Homo sapiens: one gene and its partner. The protein of the gene in region 2 purifies or fractionates together with the protein of the main gene of each other region. This does not show direct contact. Each region holds a gene or a part of one and is shown on either strand. Other genes may lie near its edges.

The links. The genes of interacting proteins can lie anywhere in the genome.
Region 1: the proteins of SPRYD7 (region 2) and SBF1 purify together in Homo sapiens (affinity purification with mass spectrometry; one large-scale study listed by BioGRID and IntAct). This does not show direct contact.

What each region holds. Positions count from the first base shown.
Region 1 is NC_000022.11:50,450,966-50,454,535, forward strand, and holds part of SBF1 (myotubularin-related protein 5), read right to left. Parts: coding exon 3,547-3,570; intron 1-3,546. UniProt on the Homo sapiens protein: Acts as an adapter for the phosphatase MTMR2 to regulate MTMR2 catalytic activity and subcellular location. Promotes the exchange of GDP to GTP, converting inactive GDP-bound Rab proteins into their active GTP-bound form.
Region 2 is NC_000013.11:49,922,065-49,927,436, reverse strand, and holds part of SPRYD7 (SPRY domain-containing protein 7), read left to right. Parts: intron 1-5,372.

The sequences.
Region 1 (3,570 bases), on a different chromosome or scaffold from region 2:
CAAGATTTAAAAGAAAAGATGGACATAATGGTTTATCAGATGGGGAATCTCTACAATAAAAAGCGTTAAATTCATTAGATGGGGCCGGGTGTGGTGGCTCATGCCTGTAATCCCAGCACTTTAGGAGGCCAAGGTGAGAGGACTGCTTGAGCCCAGGAGTTTGAGACCTGCCTGGGTGACATAGGGAGACCCCATCTCTACAAAAAAAAAAAAAAAAAAAAAAAAAAAGTAGCCGGCACGTGGCCCACGCCAGTAGTCTTGGCAACTCAAGAGGCTGAATGAAGCAGGATGATTGTTTGAGCCTGGGAGGTTCGGGCTGCAGTGAGCCATGACTGTGCCACTGCACTCCAGCCTGGGCAACAGAGCAAGACCCTGTCTCAAGAAATTAAAAAAAAATTCATTTGATGGGCTTCAGTATATTAAAAACAAGAAAGAAAAGAGTAGTGAACTTGAAGACAAGCCAACAGAAATCATCCAAAATGAATTGCAAAGATAAAGACTGAGAAAAAACAAACAGAGCTTCAGCAACGTATGGGACAATAAAGTTCCAGAAGGAAAGGGAGAGATCATGCAGAAAAAGTAATTTATAGAAGCAATGGCTTGAAATGTATTAAATTTGACAAAAATGATCATCCCACAGACCCAGAAGTTTAAAGAGCCCCAAGCAGGACGAAAGCAAAAACCACAATGGTCAAATTGCTGAAGCCAAAATTAAATGCAAAATCTTAAGGCAGAGAATCAAAGGGTGCCATTATACACAGTTTATAAGGATAAGAATCAACACCAACTTCTAAGCAGAAACAATACAGGCCAGAAAACAAAGTAATATCTTTTTTTTTTTTTTTTTTGAGGCAGAGTCTCACTCATGTCGCCCAGGCTGCAGTGCAGTGGCGCGATCTCAGCTCAGTGCAGCCTCCACCTCCCGGGTTGAAGCGATTCTCCTGCCTCAGCCTCCTGAGTAGCTGGGATTACAGGCACCCGCCACCATGCTCAGCTCATTTTTATATTTTAGTAGAGACGGGGTTTCACCATATTTGCCAGGCTGGTCTCGAACTCCTGACCTCAGGTTATCCACCTGCCTCAGCCTCCCAAAGTGCTGGGATGACAGGCGTGAGCCGCTGCGCCCAGCCTAGTAATGAGATCTTTTAAAGTGACATCAGTTTAACTGCTGAATTAAAAAAAAAAAAAAAAAAAAGAAGCAGCTGTCAACCTAGAAATGCATATCCAGAGAAAATGCCCTTTGCAAAATAAAGGCACCAAGATGTTTTCAGATAAACAAAAGCTGAGGGGATTTGTGACTGGCAGCTCTGCATTACAAGAAATATTAAAAATTCTTCAGGCTGAAGAGAAATAATAACCAGACCAGATTATACTGAAAGAATGAAGAATGTTATAAATGGCAAAAATAGAAGACTTTTTCCTTCTTTCTTAATTTCCTTAAAACAAAGTTGACTATTTAAAACAAAAACAGGGCCGGGCACGGTGGCTCACGCCTGTAATCCCAGCACTTTGCAAGGCCAAGGCGGGCGGATCACCTGAGGTCAGGAGTTTGAGACTAGCCTGGCCAACACAGTGAAACCCCGTCTCTACTAAAAATACAAAAAAAATTTAGCCGGGCATGATGGTGGGTGCCTCTAATCCCAGCTACTTGGGAGGCTGAGACAGGAGAATCACCTGAACTCAGAGGCAGAGGTTGCAGTGAACCGAGATCGCACCACCGCTCTCCAGCCTGGGTGACTGAGGGAGACTCCATCTCTCAAAAAAAAAAAAAAAAAAAAAAAAAAAACCATACTGGGTGTTTATGTCATACGTAAAAATAAAATGTGTGACAGTAACAGGACAGGAAAGGCATGAATGGACACACACTGCCGTAAGGCTCTTCTGGTGTCAACAGGGTGATGTAATTTCAAGTCAGATGATTATAGCCCCCAGCAACCCCTGAAACACAACACAGAGATGTACAGCTCAACTCACAGTAGACAGAATACTAAAAACACTTGTTTTTTAAAAAAAGAAAAGAAAGAAAGGAAAAAAAATCAAAGGGACAAAGAGAAAACAAAGAGCAAGATGACAGACTTAAACCCAGCCACATCAATAGTAACAGTAAATTAAAATGGGCTAAAAATTCCAATTAAAAAAACCCATTAGACTGGATAACAAGAAGACCCAACTACATCTACATTCTGTGTACAAGAAACTCACCTTAAACATAAACACACAGACCAGTAAAAAATACAAGAAAACAACAGAGCAAGCTGACACTGGTCATGACAAAGCTGAGTGACTCTGTTAGCACCAATGAGACCGCGTCAACTTTAAGACAATGAGCATCGCTAGAGAGAAAAAGGGACTGCTGTCTGTGCTTTGTGGGTCACCTCCATCACAAACCATGACTCCCGTACTCCCCCAAACCCTGTGCCCCATGCTAAGTCACTGAAATAAATGACTCATTTAAGCCTCACAACTTCCCTGTAAGGCAGGAATCAGCATTTCCACTTTCTGCACAAGGAACCAGAAGCTCTAAGATGCTTAGATAACTAGGCCAGGCACGGTGGCTCACGCCTGTAATCCCAGCACTTTGGGAGGCCGAGGCAGGTGGATCACGAGGTCAGGAGATCGAGACCATCCTGGCTAACACGGTAAAACCCCGTCTCCACTAAAAATACAAAAAATTAGCTGGGCGTGGTGGTGGGCACCTGTAGTCCCAGCTACTCGAGAGGCTGAGGCAGGAGAATGGTGTGAACCCGGGAGACGGAGCTTGCAGTGAGCGGAGATCGCGCCACTACACTCCAGCCTGGGCGACAGAGCGAGACTCCATCTCAAAATAAAAAAAAAAAGATAACCTCTAAGGCCACACAGCCAACAGTGGGGAGCTGAGTGCAGGTCCCCCCGTGGCCTAGGTCCAAGGTCCACACTCCTCTGCCTGCTCAGTCCCACAGAGACTCCGGGATGGCCCCAAAAGGTAGCACCACGCGCAGGACACTGCCTCAGGCCTTACACACCAACCCAGCCACCACCCAATCGCAGTCTCCTTTCTCCCTCCCAGGCATCTCTGCCTTGTTCAGTCCAGGCCCACCAGGGATGGCACAGTGAGGGGTAAGAGAGGCCTCAATGTCAACCCCAAGCTCTCAGGGCAAGAACCCAGAGCTGCTCACGTTAGGTGGGGCAGGCGGTCTGGCAGAGGGAGTAAAACACTGTCGTCTCTAAGGGCTGACTCCTCAACAGGTGCCTGAGCTGCTCAAAGCCAGGTCAGGGAAAACACACGTGCTCAGAGTGGAGGCTGTGTACTGAGACCTGAGGGTCTCTGATGACGGCCCTCCTGTCACTGTCTGGAAGCACCCACTGAGTGGTGCGGGGCCCTGGGGAGCCACAGCCACCCCAGGCCAGTAGGCAGTTCACATGGTGGGGAGACGGCAGGGCCACACCAACCCCCAGGGGTAACCGGACTTACGTGCATGTACGAGTGTACACACACACGCACGACCCTGGTGTCTGAGCGAGAGGAGGGGGGTGCCAGGCCAGACCCTGCTCTGGGATCACACGCACCTCCAGCAGGCGTGAGATGGCGTC
Region 2 (5,372 bases):
GCAACCTCTGCCTCCCAGGTTCAAGCTATTCTCCGGCCTCAGCCTCCCGAGTAGCTAGGATTACAGGCGCACACCACCAGGCCTGGCTGATTTTTTTTATTTTTAGTAGAGACGGGGTTTCGCCATGTTGGCCAGGCTGATCTCGAACTCCTGACCTCAAGTGATCCACCTGCCTCGGCCTCCCAAAGTGCTGGGATTACAGGCATGAGCCACCGCGCCTAGCCACACATGTATTTCTTAATTTGTTATGAAATTCTATTAAGAGAATTACAGCATTTTATCAGAAATGTTCATCTTCATTAAACTTAACCTAATTAAACTCTTCAGAGAACGGAACTCAAAATCCTAAAGCTTGATCGTAGAAAAGTTTTTTTTTTAGAAAGCAGAGGATAGTAAAAGTTACACGTTATTAAGACTTTTCTGTTTTTACTCCTAACTGGCTATATTTAACTCTTTACAAAGCTAGCACATTGAAAATGTAATCCAAAGATTTCTTTCTGTCTTTTCCAGATACTTCCTTCCACACTGCATTATCCAAAACCCCTCCCTATCCAGAGGTCAGGCCATTGATTTAGAACAGAGTCCTAGAGTCTCCTTCAGCCGAGGTGCCCTTGTACACTGAACCTTGGGTTCTCAATTCTGATATCAAGTTGAAAGGAATCTATGAATAATGAGAGAAGGATTCTAATAAGATGAAAAGATAAGAGAAATCCAGGTTAATTAATTATGAAAAGGTACAGTATTTTAGAAAGAATGAAGAAAGGTGTGGAAATTAAGATTTTTAATTACGGCCTGATCTTTCTTCTCTTTTTTGCAATTTAAAAAATATGAACAACTGTAAGTTTTTAATTGTTGGAAGTTTTTTTTCCAGAATTGACTAAAGAAAAAAAGGAGATGAAAGGCATAAGCCATTAAAAAAATCTGCTTTTTCCCATGCTTTTTGAATAGTTGGTTCTGTATTTGTAGATCATTGCCAGATGCCCATAATATGGAACATCCTTATTCAAATGGTAATTTCTTGAAAGAGAATCTTGAAGTCAAGTTGATGCTGTCAACCTGTTTACCCTAAAAGATGAAATTCAAACATAAGAAAGGATAATCAGTAACAAATGTTTTTCTTTGTTGATGAACTGAAACTTCTACCTGCCTTCCTATCTCATTTCATTCATTGTAATGTCTGATAGCACAGTGTGACAGACTGAAGAATGCCACTTTTAGTCTGTCAGTGTTGTTAAATTAGACTTCGAGTTTTCATATGAGCTCATTCTCATAAAAGGAGAACTAAAACTATGAAATACATGCAGAGCCAAGAAAAGAAAAACATTACCCTGCTATTTTAACTAGTTCAAACACTGGAGAACAAATTTTACCAAATTGTTAACAGTGGCATGCAATAAGTAGAATGGATTATAAGACAGGAAAAGCATTCTCATGTGTTTAGAATTTAAGTCATGTACCATTCTCTGAGGAGAAATCAAGAAAAATAAGCTGTGAACATCTAACCAAATGATTATATGATTATATTCATATGATAATCACCCAGTACAGCACGGCCTGCTACAGAACTAGAAAGACATACATGAAACAGTTTATGCTCACTTTCTCCTTTTTTTTTTTTTTGTTTTCAGATGGCCACTCGCTCTGTCACCCAGGCTGGAGTGCAGTGGCGCTATCTTGGCTCACTGCAAGCTACACCTCCTGGGTTCACGCCATACTCCTGCCTCAGCCTCCTGAGTAGCTGGGACTACAGGCGCCCGCCACCACGACTGGCTAATTTTTTTCATTTTTTACTAGAGACGGGTTTTCACTGTGTTAGCCAGGATGGTCTCCAACTCCTGACCTCATGATCTGCCCACCTCGGCCTCCCAAAGTGCTGGGATTACAGGCGTGAGCCACCGTGCCCGGCCTACTTTCTCCTTATACATATAATTCTGAAAAGTACAAATTTCATTCTAACATGCATGTATCAGTTTACTTTTAGAGAAGTCTTATAAACATTCTATGTAATAATAACAATAACAAACACTTCTAAGCATTTATTTATTGAGATGGAGTCTCACTCTGTTGCCCAGGCTGGATTGCAGTGGTGCCATCTCGGCTCACTGCAACCTCCACCTCCTGGATTCAAGCGATTCTCCCGTCTCAGCCTCTCTAGTAGCTGGGACTACAAGTGCGTGCCACCACGCCTGGCTAATTTTTGTATTTTTTAGTAGAGACGGGGTTTCACCATATTGGACAGGCTGGTCTCGAACTCCTGACCTCGTGATCCACCCACCTTGGCCTCCCAAAGTGATGGGATTACAGGCATGAGCCACCGTGCCCAGACCTAAGCATTTATTATGGGCACTGCTCTAAGTGCCTGGCAAGGATTAAATTGTTTAATGCTCATAATGGCCCTTTGAAATAGGTATTATTATTATTATTATTATTATTATTATTATTTATTTATTTTTTTTTTTTGAGATGGAGTTTTGCTCTTGTTGCCCAGGCTGAAGTGCAATGATGCAGTCTCGGCTTACTGCAACCTTCACCTCCCGGGTTCAAGCGGTTCTCCTGCCTCAGCCTCCTGAGTAGCTACAATTACAGGTGCCTGCCACCATTCCCAGCTAATTTTTTTGTGTTTTTAGTAGAGACAGGGTTTCACCATTTTGGCCAGGCTGGTCTGGAACTCCTGACCTCAAGTGATCTACCCACCTCGGCCTCCCAAAGTGCTGAGATTACAGGTGTGAGCCACCACGCCCGTACGGTAGTAGTATTATTATCCCCATTTTACAGATTAAGAGAAATTAAGTAACTTCTTATGTGAGTTAATTACAAGACTATATAGCTCAGCCAGATACTATGGCTCATGCCTGTAATCCTAGCACTTTGAGAGGCCAAGGCAGAAGGATCCCTTGAGCTCAGGAATTTGAGACCAGCCTGGGAAACATAGTGAGACCCCATCTCTACAAACAAACAAACAAATAAATAAATAAATAAAATTTAAAAAGAAAATTAGCCGGGCATAGTGGCATGCCCCTGTAGTTCTAGCTACTTGGAAGGCTGAGGTGGGAGAACTGCTTCAGCCTGGGAGATAAAGGCGGCAGTGAGCCGTGATCCTGCCGCTGCACTCCACCCAACCTGGGCCACACAGAGCAAGACCTTGTCTCTGGCCGGGTGCGGTGGCTCACGCCTGTAATCCCAGCACTTTGGGAGGCCGAGGTGGGCAGATCACCTGAGGTCAGGAGTTCGAGACCAGCCTGACCAACATGGAGAAACCCCGTCTCTACTAAAAAAAATACAAAAAATTAGCCAGGCGTAGTGGTGCATGCCTGTAATCCCAGCTACTCGGGAGGCTGAGGCAGGAGAATCACTTGAACCTGGGAGGCGGAGGTTGCAGTGAGCCGAGATTGCGCCATTGCACTCCAGCCTAGGCGACAAGAACGAAACTCTGCCTCAAAAAAAAAAAAAAAGACCTTGTCTCAAAAACAAAAACAAAAACCAAGATCATACCTGAAGCAGTCTAATTTCAGAATCTGTTCACTAACCTGCACACAATTATTAATAAAGACATAGAACACACAGTATATTTTGCTATCATTTTGGCAGAATCAAACCCAGTTTCTTCATCATAGAATAGATTAGGTTAGAAAACACTTGAACTGGCCCATCACAGTGGCACATGCCTGTAATCCCTGCACTTCGGGAGGCTGAGGCGGGCGTATCACACTGAGCCAAGGTCGCGCCACTGCGCTCCAGCCTGGGCGACAGAGTGAGACCCAGTCTCAAAAAAAAAAAGAAAGAAAATACTTGAACTAAACTATACTGAGGGTGGGACTTCTCACATCTTTCCTCACTTCTTTGGTACTGGGATTTTGCTACTGCAGGCTTGGGTTTAAAACTTGCTTGTTTGAGGCTGGGCGCGGTGGCCAACGCCTGTAATCTCCGCATTTTGGGAGACCGAGGCGGGCAGATCATTTGAGGTCAGGAGTTCAAGACCAGCCTGGCCAACATGGTGAAACCCCATCTCTACTAAAAATGCAAAAATTAGCCAGGCATGGTGGCGGGCGCCTGTAATCCCAGCTACTGGGGAGGCTAAGGCAGGAGAATCTCCTGAACCTGGGAAGTGGAGGTTGCAGTGAGCCAAGATCATGCCATTGCACTACAGCCTGGGTGACAGAACGAGACTCTGTCTCAAAAAAAAAACAAAAAACAAACTTGTTTGTTTGCAATCGGCCACTGGGGGATGAAAGTGCCTGGATTACAACCTCACTGATCTGAACTGCTAGATTTCTGGTAGTCCCATAATGAGAGTAACATACTTTCTTTTTTATGTAATTAAGTTTTTGTTTTTTAAAATGAAAACAGACTTTTTCATTAGAAAAGTGAATCCCAGCCATCAGCTAGCTTTATTACTATTATCTAAAGACATAAACTAAAGCGAAGCAAAGGCAATCTATGTACTATTTATCTTTCTCAGTATTCCTTAATTATTAATAATTGTTTAAGTTAACCCTGGCTTTGCTAAGAATTGAGAATCTTTCATACCACTTACCACATTAGCTTCTCTGGGCTTTTGCTGTCTTGCTTGTAAAGAGAGAGAATTTAAGACTAAGATGATCTATAAAATTTTTTTTTTTTACCTCTAAAAAGCTTTTAACTTGATAGAATGTATCCACAGTCAGAAATCCTGAAATCCTTGAAGTGGTTTGCTTCTTGGTCTATGATGACTTCTCTATTGAAAGATCTCTGCTGTCTTTCAAGGGAAAGATCTCTTTTTGTTATCAGTTAGTAGCTATTGTATAAAGTTTTAAAGAGAGATATGGTGATTAAGAGCAAGTGTTTAAAGAGAGGCATGGTGATTTAGAGAGAGGTATTGTGATTAAGAGCAAGGATTCTGAAACCATACTGTATGGATTTAAATCACAGCTTTTCCACTTCCTAGCTGTGCAACCTTAGGTAAATTACTTAATCTTTCTGTGCTTTAGCTTCATCTGTAAAATGGGGATAGTAATACTGTCTTGTTGTGAGGATTAAATGAGTAAATATGAACTGCCTAGAATAGTAGCACTATTGGTTTATAACATGGGCTAAGTCTTTTCTAGCCTTTTATTTATTTATATAAATAATTTATATTTATACAAATAAATATTTTATTTATATAATTATAAAATAATTATTTTAACAATAATTATTAATATCACTAATTGTGATTTTTTTCCATCAATAGTGTACCGAGTAATTTTATTACATTGTTTTTTAAATCATTTGAGCTACTATTTTTGTTTTTTAACTTGAAACTAATTACCAATTTTATTCAGTTGTGAACACCAGCTTTTCCTTGATAATACACTTGACACATTTGAAACCAGAGTAAAGAGATGTAGAAATGT